Linked DNA regions of Homo sapiens: region 1 is linked to region 2. The links come from fine-mapping of genetic effects on gene expression. Tissue or cell type: sun-exposed skin. Region 2 holds a variant in brackets; the other region holds the start of a gene. All regions are shown on one strand. Distances are from middle to middle.

The links. PIP is the estimated chance that this variant, and not a neighbour inherited with it, causes the effect.
Region 1: it holds the start of PTK6, and the variant in region 2 is fine-mapped to the expression of PTK6 in sun-exposed skin (GTEx, PIP 0.95).

Annotation. Positions count from the first base shown.
Region 1 is chr20:63,534,959-63,540,351 of GRCh38, reverse strand. PTK6 (protein tyrosine kinase 6) reads left to right here and starts at 2,976. Exons shown (of 8, transcript NM_005975.4): 1 at 2,976-3,267; 2 at 5,293-5,393. The coding sequence starts at 3,038. It overlaps SRMS (src-related kinase lacking C-terminal regulatory tyrosine and N-terminal myristylation sites), which reads left to right. Exons shown (of 8, transcript NM_080823.4): 8 at 1-1,863. RefSeq lists a cis regulatory region at 284, enhancers at 200-369, 2,788-2,877 and silencers at 1,918-2,187, 2,518-2,667.
Region 2 is chr20:63,678,880-63,684,272 of GRCh38, reverse strand. It overlaps RTEL1 (regulator of telomere elongation helicase 1), which reads right to left. Exons shown (of 35, transcript NM_001283009.2): 13 at 4,327-4,424; 14 at 3,554-3,609. RTEL1-TNFRSF6B (RTEL1-TNFRSF6B readthrough (NMD candidate)) reads right to left here. Exons shown (of 38, transcript NR_037882.1): 13 at 4,327-4,424; 14 at 3,554-3,609. Among named protein-coding and RNA genes, the nearest start is that of TNFRSF6B, 15 kb to the left of the region's middle. RefSeq lists enhancers at 110-834, 1,561-2,285. The variant C/T (reference allele first, on the strand shown) is at 2,455.

The sequences.
Region 1 (5,393 bases), 140 kb after region 2:
AGAGCCAAAGGCCCAGTTCTCTCCCTAGTCCCAGCTTGGGTTTGTGGAAATGACCAGTGCTGACTCCCAGGCAGACCGTGGTGTTGACCCCACTGGATGTGTGGTATGTAGGCACGGGGTGGCACCGTCACCTGCCCCTCACAGACACACTGGCGGCCTGTGCACAAACCCACTCACGCACACAGCACTCAGTAAGCCGGGACTGACCCACTCAGACACGCACACAGGCGCACATCACACACAGGCTCAGCCCCCCAAACCCAGACCCAGGAGCTGGAGCGTACGGGTCCACGTGGCTAGAAAATGCAGGTTGGAGCGGCCCCCATGCCGCCCGGACCCCCAGCCCAGGACATCATGGTGCCCAGAGAGCGTGAGCCCCAAGGGCATTGGCAGGAGCTGCCGATTCCATCTCCCTGGGTGGGTTCCAGGTGGCACAGGAAGGGTGGGCCGGGAGGCTTGGTGACCTGGGAGCTGCCCTTGGAGGCTATTTCCAGGGGCCTCAGGGTGGGCCGTGGGGGATTTGGAGTCTTCTGCCTGTGCAGGGTCAGGCAGGGTCGGTTGGGGGCTCGGAGGTAGATGCCATGGTATGCTGGGCAGCAAGTGGCTCAGGAAGCCTCTGGGTGTGAGTCCTCGGGGGTCACCAAGGCAGGAGGGGGCAGGGATGTGCAGGGTCCGCCCTCGTCTCCCCACGTCTGGCTCAGGGAAGCTTCTGCTCAGGTCTTCGTGAAACACGTCAAGAAGCAAGGGGGCCGGTGGGGTCTGTTTGTGGCCCCCGGAGACCCTGCCCCCCACCCTCCTGGGAGCCCAGGTTGGCAGCTGTGCCCAGAAGGCTTTCGGGGACAGAAAGTTTGGAGACAAGTTCAGGCCTGACTGAGTCCTTGTCCCCTAGAGTTGGGGTCAGCTCTGTACCTGCTGAGCCGAAGTGCTGATGGCTGCCGTCCACAGGCCCCGGCCAAAGCCTGGCTCAGGAGGGAGCTAAGAGATGAGACTCCCGTGTGCAGAGACAGGTGGCCCCGGGGAAGGAAGAGGCCACTCGGAGGCTCCGAGAACGGAGGCAGCGCGGGGGCTTCCTGGGGCCCGTGCATCGGAGGAACAAGGCCAAGCGGAGGGAAGCAGCAGGAACCAGGACCCCTGCAGATGGTGGAGGCAAGAGGCTTTATCTGAGCCTTTGGGACCCTGGCCACCTGCCCAGCTCCATCTGCATGGGAGAACCTAGGGGAGGGGCTGGTTCTGGTACCTGGGCCCACTGAGGCCTTGAGCTGAGCTTCCAGTTCTGGCAGGTCCCCAGCACAGCAGCCTGGGGGCTCCTCTGGCACAGAAGGCCTCGCCCTCTGTGCTCTCTGCAGCCGCCACTGGGATTAAGGGGACCAGGTGTGTCTGTGGCACCTGTGCCCTCCTAGGCATCTCGCCAGCCACCAGCTGAACAGGTTTGGTGCTCCTGGGTATCTGGGAGGGGCTGGGGACGTTCCTGCCTCCTGGTGTGGCTTAGACTGAAAGTCCTGCACGTCCGAACTCAGGGATACTCGAGGCTTCCTGGACATAGACTCACGGGCCCAGAGTCTGGCCGGGCTCTGAGGGACGCTGCCCGGCCAGGTGCCCCGGCACCCTCCTTCCGCATTCCCCACCCCCCACCCCTCCCCCTGCATCCTCCCCAACCGACCCCAGACAGAGCTGGGAGGGCCTGAGGGACACTGCCCAGGCCGGCACCCCGCTGCCCCTCCCCACCTTGGTCAGCGCTGAGCTGGGCTGCCCAGAAATCTATGAGCCTGTTAAATAATCCAGATTATTGTTCTTAATCTCAAAACAATGAGTGGAAGGTGCCATTATTTCTCTTTGCAATAAAAATAAAAGTTGAAATACGCAGTTTAGGGACTTTCCTTACCACCCCTTGCAGACTTTGAATTTCCCTTCCCGCCCCTTCCTGCCCCCTTGTGGCTGCCAGTCCAGGTCCCTGGGTTGGAGCTCCCGGGTGGACACAGTAGGGTCAGTGGGAGGGTGGGGCGGGGAGGGGCCTCCAGGGAGGGGGTGTCCCGAGTCTCAGGGGCTGGGGGGCAGGCGGCCGTCGGGTGCAGGTGGGGGTCACGGCAGGGCTCACTCAGGCATGAGTCGGGAGAAGGGAGGCCAGCTGGAAGGGGGCAGGGGTCCTGCGGGCTGGACAGGAGGAGGCAGAGGCTGGAGGCGGGAGGGGCTGCCTGGGAGGGACCTGTGGCCTTGGGCCCCAGCGCCATGGGCGCTTCCAGGCCGCACTCACGGTCCTTGCCTGCCCCCTGGCGTCCGTGTGGAGGAAGGCAGTGCCCGTTTCTTCAGCCGTGGGTGCCCCTGGCTCTGCCTCCCCGGGGATCCCCCAAAACCCTCGGGCCCTCCTCTTCCGGGAAGTCCTCCGGGCCGACCCACACAGCTGTCGCTGCCCTGATTCCACTCCCTCTTCCCTGCTTGGCCCTTACCCGAGGGCGGGCCTGCCCATGAGGCCGCTCTCAGGACGCCTGCCCACAGCAGCTCCTGACATTGGGCCCTGTGCTCAGGGGTGGAGTCTGGGGCTGGGTGAGGGCACCGACGGGTGGAGGGGAAGCTGCCGGAAGCGGGGAGAGAGGCGGCCCCCACCTGTGCCCCCGCAGCTCTGAGGGTTGGGAAGGCAGCGCCTGCAGCCCTCACCTTCCTGCCCTCAGGCTGCGAGGCTTGTTCCCAGAGGGCCGTTGGCTTCCCTGAGTGCCTGAGTGTCCATAAGTTGGACCCCCAAGAAGCCCCAACCGGGAGGTCCTCCTCCCCCTCTCCTGCGCTCAGGCCGGCCCTGGCGGTGCTTGCCCAGTGGGTTCCCATAGTGCGGGCGCTAAGTGCTCAGATGGGCCCCAGTGGGCCTGAGGACTTGTGGGGCCGGCTGGGCCCTCAGGAGGAGCCGGGGTGCTCTGGAGCGCCTGTGGGTGCTGGGTGTGGCTGCTTCCCGGCCTGTCATGAGGAAGTGGGACGGCCCGCCTGCCACGCCCAGCTCTGGGTGCTCCAGCTGGGCCACAGCCTGGTCCTGCCGCTGCGCCCGCCCGCCATGGTGTCCCGGGACCAGGCTCACCTGGGCCCCAAGTATGTGGGCCTCTGGGACTTCAAGTCCCGGACGGACGAGGAGCTGAGCTTCCGCGCGGGGGACGTCTTCCACGTGGCCAGGAAGGAGGAGCAGTGGTGGTGGGCCACGCTGCTGGACGAGGCGGGTGGGGCCGTGGCCCAGGGCTATGTGCCCCACAACTACCTGGCCGAGAGGGAGACGGTGGAGTCGGAACCGTGCGTGTCCTAGGCTGCTGGGAGCTTTGGCACAGGCCACCCTCTAGGCACAGGGGAGGGACAGGGCTCTGGGCTGCTCAGGGAGGCCCAAGAAGGTGGGGACCCCGGTTCCATCTTCCTGCACCCCAAAGTCCAGGCTGGGCATCCCGCTTGATCCTCCCTGCAGGCCCCATGCGCTGGCGCCCAGGAGTGCCCAGGACTGTCCCTGCGGGAGTTGGAGCACGGGGGTCAGAGGGCACGGCCCCTGCCTTGGGCTCATCCTTGTCACAGCTCGGGGGTGGACGCTGCATTGCCGGGACCCAGGGAGGACAGAGGGTCCAGGGTGGACTTCTGGGGCCCGGTGGCCAGTGACAAGGTCTGTCGGAGCGTTCCAGGGCCTTTGGGGGAAACGAAGCTTGAAGCTTGCCCAGTTTCCAAAGTGCCGGAACCAGACACACGACCTAGTTAGGGGAGCGGGCCGGCTGCCGGGCAAACTTCCTGCCTGCTGTGCCCTGCGGGGAACCAGACAGCAGCTGGTGTGGCCTGGCCCTGGCTTCCACAGCTGCCCGGAGCTCAGGCTGAGGAGGGTCACGCTCCTGAGATCCCGCGTTTCTCATCAGTGATTGGGCACCCACTGTGTGTGTGCGTGAGTCACAGGCTGTGTAGGGTTAGCTCCCGGGGGACCCAAGCAACAAGCAGGGGAGGCTGTAAAGAGGCCGTCGGGCAGGGGCCCATGGTGGAGACCCCTCTATTACGTGCAGACCCACGACCTCGTTAGCAGGGTCACGCGCAGACCCACGACCTCGTTAGTGAGCAGGGGTGCAGGGGTGGGGTCTGGCCGGAGGCTGGTCAGCTCCCAGGTGCAAAGACCCTGAGTCCTGAGAACTCGCCCAGGTGAGAAGTGGGGAGGAGGCCAGGTGAGGAGGGGGTGGGAGGCCAGGTGGGGGGGGGAGCGGGAGGCTAGGTGGGGGGGGCTGGAGGCCAGGTGAGGGGGGGCGGGAGGCCAGGTGGGGGGGGCGGGAGACCAGGAGAGGAGGGGACGGGAGGCCAGGAGAGGAGGGGGCGGGAGGCCAGGAGAGGAGGGGGCGGGAGGCCAGGTGAGGAGGGGGCGGGAGGCCAGGTGAGGGGGGGGCGGGAGGCCAGGTGAGGGGGGTGCGGGAGGCCAGGTGAGGACGGGGTGGGAGGCCAGGTGAGGGGGGGGCGGGAGGCCAGGTGAGGAGGGGGCGGGAGGCCAGGTGAGGAGGGGGCGGGAGGCCAGGTGAGGGGGGGGGCGGGAGGCCAGGTGAGGAGGGGGCGGGAGGCCAGGTGAGGAGGGGGCGGGAGGCCAGGTGAGGGGGGGGGCGGGAGGCCAGGTGGTTGGAGGGGCAGGTGGGGCAGTGCTTCCAGGTGTGCGGAAGTGGAGGGGGTGGACCCCAGGGGCTCCATGCTGGGCCGTGGTCTTCTGTGTGGGGTTTGTGTTCCAGTGACCTGAGGGAGTCAGACACACAAAGGGCGCAGGTCACCTGGAGCTTCTGCAAGCTCCACCTGGAAGTCCACAGTCCAGGGCTGGCCCACACCCCGCAGCCGGGAGTTAGTGCGCGCGAGTGGCTGTGTGTGCGTGCGTGTGAGCGTGTGGGCAAGTGAGCACACATGCGCGTGTGTGTTCAGGTGTGCGGGTGAACTGTGCGCATGTGTGGGGGTTTGTGACTGTGTGTGTGTGAGCGTGCGTCACACATGGGTGTGTGCAGGCAGCTCTGGGCAGCCATCCTGCTCAGCTGCCCTCCCCAGCTCCACCCTAGGCTCTGACCCCTAGACTCGGGCCACTCAGGGCAGGGTGTGGTAGCGCCTGCCCCTGCCCCCGCCGGGTCCTCAGGGGCCTGTCCTGGCCTTTCGGGACATTCAGGGCGTCTGGGTCAGCGACAGCTCCTGAGAGCAGCTGTGGTCAGGGCTGGGAGCTTGAGGTGGCAGGCAAGGGCGGCTGGGGTTCCAGGCGGGCAGGCTGGGGCCAGCGTGGGGTCCACGTGGGGTGGGCCCAGGTCCGCGTGTTCTCAGACTCCTCCCCTGCAGGTGGTTCTTTGGCTGCATCTCCCGCTCGGAAGCTGTGCGTCGGCTGCAGGCCGAGGGCAACGCCACGGGCGCCTTCCTGATCAGGGTCAGCGAGAAGCCGA
Region 2 (5,393 bases):
GGAGTTGGGGGAAGCCGAGCCGCTCGGTCAGCGCACAGAACCACCGGTGTGGCGTGCTGGGAAAAATCAAGGTAGAGTCTGCCTTTCACACCCCCACAGGTGACGTCAGAAGGCATGGAGGCCCAGACACAAAGCTCCGTCACTCTACAGTGCAGTTTGGAGAATACACAAGACCCGGTTTAGCATCTTGGTCGGGAGGCACAAGCTCAGAACAAAAATCTGACAAGGAAACATGTGTTCACCAAACCTGTCATGAAAATGGAAAAAATGACCAGCATGAGACAAGGAAAGAATATGTATGTCGGCATGGGATCCTCAGAACTTAGAGAGAGAATATGTATATGGGATCCTCAGAACTTAGAGAGAGAATATGTATATGGGATCCTCAGAACTTACAGAGAGTATATGTATATGGGATCCTCAGAACTTACAGAGAACCCTGCAAATCAATGGGAAAGGAATGATGCCTGCACTAGGAGAGGAGCGCGTGACGACCGTTCCTGGAAAACGAGCCAAAAACGGCCAGAACAGGAACGCAAAGCCCCCAACAGGCTCAGCAATGTGGCCATGTCAGCCAAGCCACCGCCGTCAGAGCCCCGCCGCAGACTTGAGGGAGTTCTGCTGGGAACACCAAGAAGCCGGAATCATTCACAGAAATGCGGAGAAGCCGAACTAGAGAACACCGGGGGGCAGACACCACGGCTGGAACACAGAGACTTGGCAACATGCGTGGATTTGTGCAGGCGTGCGTGCGTGTGTGCGTACTCTGCATGCATGTGCACGTGCCTGGGTACGCACAGAAGGAGAGAGAAATTTCCTTCCGTTCCTTCCTTCCTTCCCAGCCATTTTCACTGTCAAGACAGCTAAACACAGGGCCTTGTGTTTTACCAAAGCATTTGGCCCACGGGGATGGAAGTAACAGAACAAGTTCACCCCCACGCTGGTGGCTGCCATGAGCAGGGCTGAGTCTGCCTCAGGAAACAGCTTCCTTCGAAAAGCCTTCTGCTGGGCAGGCATGGAAGCTCTTGCCTGTAATCCCAGCACTTTGGGAGGCCAAGGCGGGCAGACTGCCTGAGCCCAGGAGTTTGAGACCAGCCTGGGAAACATGGCAAGACCTCATCTCTACAAAAAAATTTTAAAAATTAGCTGAGTGCGGTGGTGCACACCTGTGTTCACAGCTCCTCGGGTGGCTGAGGCAAGAGGATCACTTGGGCCCAGGAGGTTGAGGCTGCAGTGAGCTGTGATCAAGCCCCTGCACTCCAGCCGGGGTGACAAAGCGAGACCCTTTCTCAAAAAAACACCACCACAAATCCCCCTGTGCCTCAGCCCAGGGCAGCTCCGGCCTCAGGCAGAGAGGGATGAGGACCCAGCAGTCTCACGGGGGCCCAGGGGCAACTGGTTCCCCAACACGGGCCAGCACTGCCCAGAGTTTGCCTCCAGCTAAGCCCTGACTTCCGAGCACACGGCCTGACCCTGCCTGGAGTTCGCCTCCAGCTGAGCTGTGCATCCCACATCCTCTTCCTGGGGCCACTGGCCCCACTCTGCCCCCAGGGTCACCTGTGACTCAGGGCTGCAGGCCCAACCCAGCACCAGCCCTATGGGCACCGCCCACACCTGCAGGGGCTCAGGAGCCAACGCGGGTGAGCACTGTGTGCAGTCCCTCATCCTCCAGGCACCCGAGGGCTGGCAGAAGCTGAGTCATCCACCAGCGGCTACTTAGAGCAGCAGCCAAAGGAAATTCCAAACCGATGGAGTGTGCAGGATTCGGTTCCAGAGTGTGGAGTCTTCTCCTTAAGTGGGGGCCTGGGAGGCCACGTTCCAGGATCCGGTTCCAGAGTGTGGAGACTTCTCCTTAAGTGGGAGGCTGGGAGGCCGCGTTCCAGGATCCGGTTCCAGAGTGTGGAGTCTTCTCCATAGCTGGGGGCCTGGGAGGCCGCGTTCCAGGATTCGGTTCCAGAGTGTGGAGTCTTCTCCATAGCTGGGGGCCTGGGAGGCCGCGTTCCAGGATTCGGTTCCAGAGTGTGGAGTCTTCTCCATAGCTGGAAGCCTTGGAAGCCGCATTCCAGGATTCAGTTCGAGTGTAGGAACCTCAGAAGCCACATTCTAGGATTCAGTTCCATAGTGTGGAGGAGACTTCTCCATAAGTGGGAGCCTGGGAAGCTGTATTCCAGGGAGGGACAGGCCCGGGCCAGCTCACACCTGCCCTCCAGGCCCTGGGCTGCAGGGCTACCTCGCCTGGCCATGTGCTGGAGGTGCTTTGCAGTGACCCATCAGGGACATGGAAGCAGGTCCGCCTGATAGGTGCACGGCCTCCTGCTTGAAGAGCCAACCACACTCCATGCGGGACAGCACAGCAGCCCTTGGCAGGCAGGAGCCACAGACAGAGGGGTCTGGGCCTGGGATGCCCACCGTGCCTTTGGGGAGGAGTTGGGAGGACAAGGCAGTGCTGTCCTT[C/T]CAGCCCCAGCTACCGCACAGAGAAGACACAGGCTGTGGCGTCACTGGCCACAGAGACGGCCACAGTGGAGGGAGGGCTGAGCCTGGGCCCCACCACCCTGTGCCCACCCCACCTGGTCCCTGCCCAGGTCTCGCCCCCGCTCAGAGCTGCGTCTGTGAAGGAGAAGGCAGTGCCTGCTTGTTCCGGGATCTGCAGCTCCATGCCCAGCAGCATGCACAGGCCAGCCATGCATCCCAGGGTTCTTCTGCGGCCTCCCCCAGCTCAAGCACCCCACAGGCCAGATGGACACTCATGAAGCTGTCATAGCGCTGGGCAGCCCTGCCTAACCCTGCCATGATCTCGTGTGGCCAGCAGGTACAGCGTGGGCAGCACAGAGGAGGCCTCACAGGGCTCCACACAGCCACCTGTGCCTTGGCTTCCCCAGTCAGGGACTTCTGAGTCTGCTTCTAAAAAAGCCACCGAGGCCCCGGAGAGGCAACGTGCCCAGAGCACCCAAAATGGGGCGTGCCCTCCACAAACCGGACAAGCACCTCTACGCCAGGGAAAGCAGGTGCTGCCATAGGCATGGAGCCAGAAGCAGACCTCACATGGGACGGGCATTGCAGGACAGGACGGGGCCAATGAGAAGGGGGCCAGGGTCGCACCCCCAATCATGGGCTCCCAGGGACACCCCTGCCGGGAACCTGCAGGGTCCCCATTTGTCTGTCCCTGGAGAAGCTGTTCAGGAAGCCGCGTGTGTCCAGAGCTCTTCATCTGCGTGCAGCTGGGGCTGCTGGGGCTGCCAGCAGTGGGTCCCCCCTGGCCTGAGGGCCCGGACAGGGCAGGAGCGGCTCCCCGGCCCCCACTGTCCTTTGCGTCCTCCCTCACCAGCATCACCCTGGGCATGTGCCACCAGACCTCGTCCTCCCCCATCCCTGCAGGAGGCCCAGTGTGGGTTTAGGGCACTGGAAAGGAGCCGAGAGTTTGCCAATCAGAAACAGGTGGTGTAGGGGCCTTTCTCCCATCCCCAAGTCTAGAATCAGTTAACTAATACAGCAGGAGAAGGCACCCGCCCGGCTTCCATCAGGGAAGGAGATGCCACAGAGGAGCAGGCCCCACCTGGATAATGTCCGCCAGCTTCTGCAGTCCGGCCGTGTTGGTGAACACTCCAGCACCTGGAGGGCAGCAGGGCGCTGACACCCACACTGCAGGCAGGGGAGGCCCCGACCCCAGCCCCGGCCCTTCCAGCATGAGCCCGCTCAGCCCGACTGCCAAGCTCCATCTCCTGCCCAATGGGGGGCCCAGGGTGGAGCGCAGCATCCATTCAGGGCGGGCAGTTCGCCTGCTCTTCCCAGCAGCCAGGAGAGAAGCCAGGCAGGGACAGAGTCTCCAAGGGGGTCAGTGGGACTTGAAAAGAGGCTCTATGGTCGCCTAAGGGTTGAAGCAGCAAAAGCCACCCTCCCCAGCACCCGGGAGCGCAGCAGAGGAGAGACCCCGCTGGGCCCGGCGTCTCAAACCAGAGCAGCCCATGGGGACACCGCCTCTGGGCAAAGCCTCTGGACCCCACAACTCTGAGAAGCAGAACTCGGGGTGGTGTGGAGAAGCCAGAGGCCCCACAAGCCAGCTAGGGCCTTGGGCTGCTCTTTCTCAAAAGCAGAATAATGGGATGAGGCTGTAGGACGAAGCCGCCAGCTGCAGAACTGGGACAGGCTCTACGGCAGCTGGCAAGTGGCACTAACGCCTCCACGCCCCGATCAGAAGATGAGGTTCTGTGGGCCTGTTCCTGCTGACGGCCAGGTGACGGCCAGGGGAGCCCTGACTGCCAAGATGGAGGCCTGCTGCACCCCCTACGCCACATTTGCCCGCACCAAAGACCCCGTGCCAGCACTCACGTCCTGCCAGGTGCTGGATGATCTGGTCCAGCGAGTCCAGGATGCAGCCCTTGGTCTGAAACGTGATCTGGGCTTCAGCAAACAGCTCAAAGATGTAGCTGCCGAGGAGAAGAAGGCAGGCTCGAGCCTGGCGGGGGGACCAGACTGCAGCTTTGGGAACTGAGGAGAAGAAGGCAGGCTCGGGCCTGAGGGGGGACGACACTGGTCAAAGATGTAGCTGCCGAGAAGAAAACAGGCTCGAGCCTGGAGGGGGAAATCAGGCTGCAGCTTTGGAACTGAAGGCAACAACTGTGGAAGTTTCCTTCCCTCGGAAACAAATTCAGCCCTCCAGGGGACGCCAGCATTGGAGGTGAGAGGCCTCCGCCCTCAGGAGCCTCCAGGTGGGGAGAGGAGGCCTGGCCAGCACGAGAACAGCACCGAGGAAAAGAAGCCGCCTCAGAGCAGGGGCCGCCGTCAGAGGGGAGGGATGGGGTCACTAGGGGGTCGTCAAGAGGTTGTCAGGGGCTTCTGGGAGGCGGTGGCTCTGGGCAGAGTCCCCAAAGCTTTGGAGAGTGACAGTGATGGGGCAGCAGAAGCTACAGGAGGGGACCCTGAGGGTGCAGGGTGGCCGAGGAGCCAGGCCAGAGCCTTGAGCATTACGCTGAGGACAGTGGCTCCACCTGGAAGCAACTGGGATTCCCCCGACCAGGTCGGCGCTCAGGCAGAACACGCTCCACCTCGGCGGCTGTGCGCTCAGGAGAGCCCCCACACAGGCCCCAGCCCTGACTCCTCATCTGCCTGCAGGACAGACAGCAAACCCTGCTGCCCTGGCTGCGGAGAAGACTGGAGCCCCACGGAGCGTTCAGAACGTTCCAGGCCTCCCGGAGTCCAAAAGAGGTGGTGGCTGGGACACTCATCGTCCTAACAAGAAGGTCTCGTTCTAACAGGCACCTGTGCTCAAATGACGGACTGGACCAGGGTCCAGGGAAAGGCCTGGAGGAGGAGAAACTGCAGGAAACCCAGCGGCCCCGCGTGGGAGAGTGTGCTGTTCCGTGGGTGTGTGTGTGCTGTCTGTGGGAGTGTGTGTG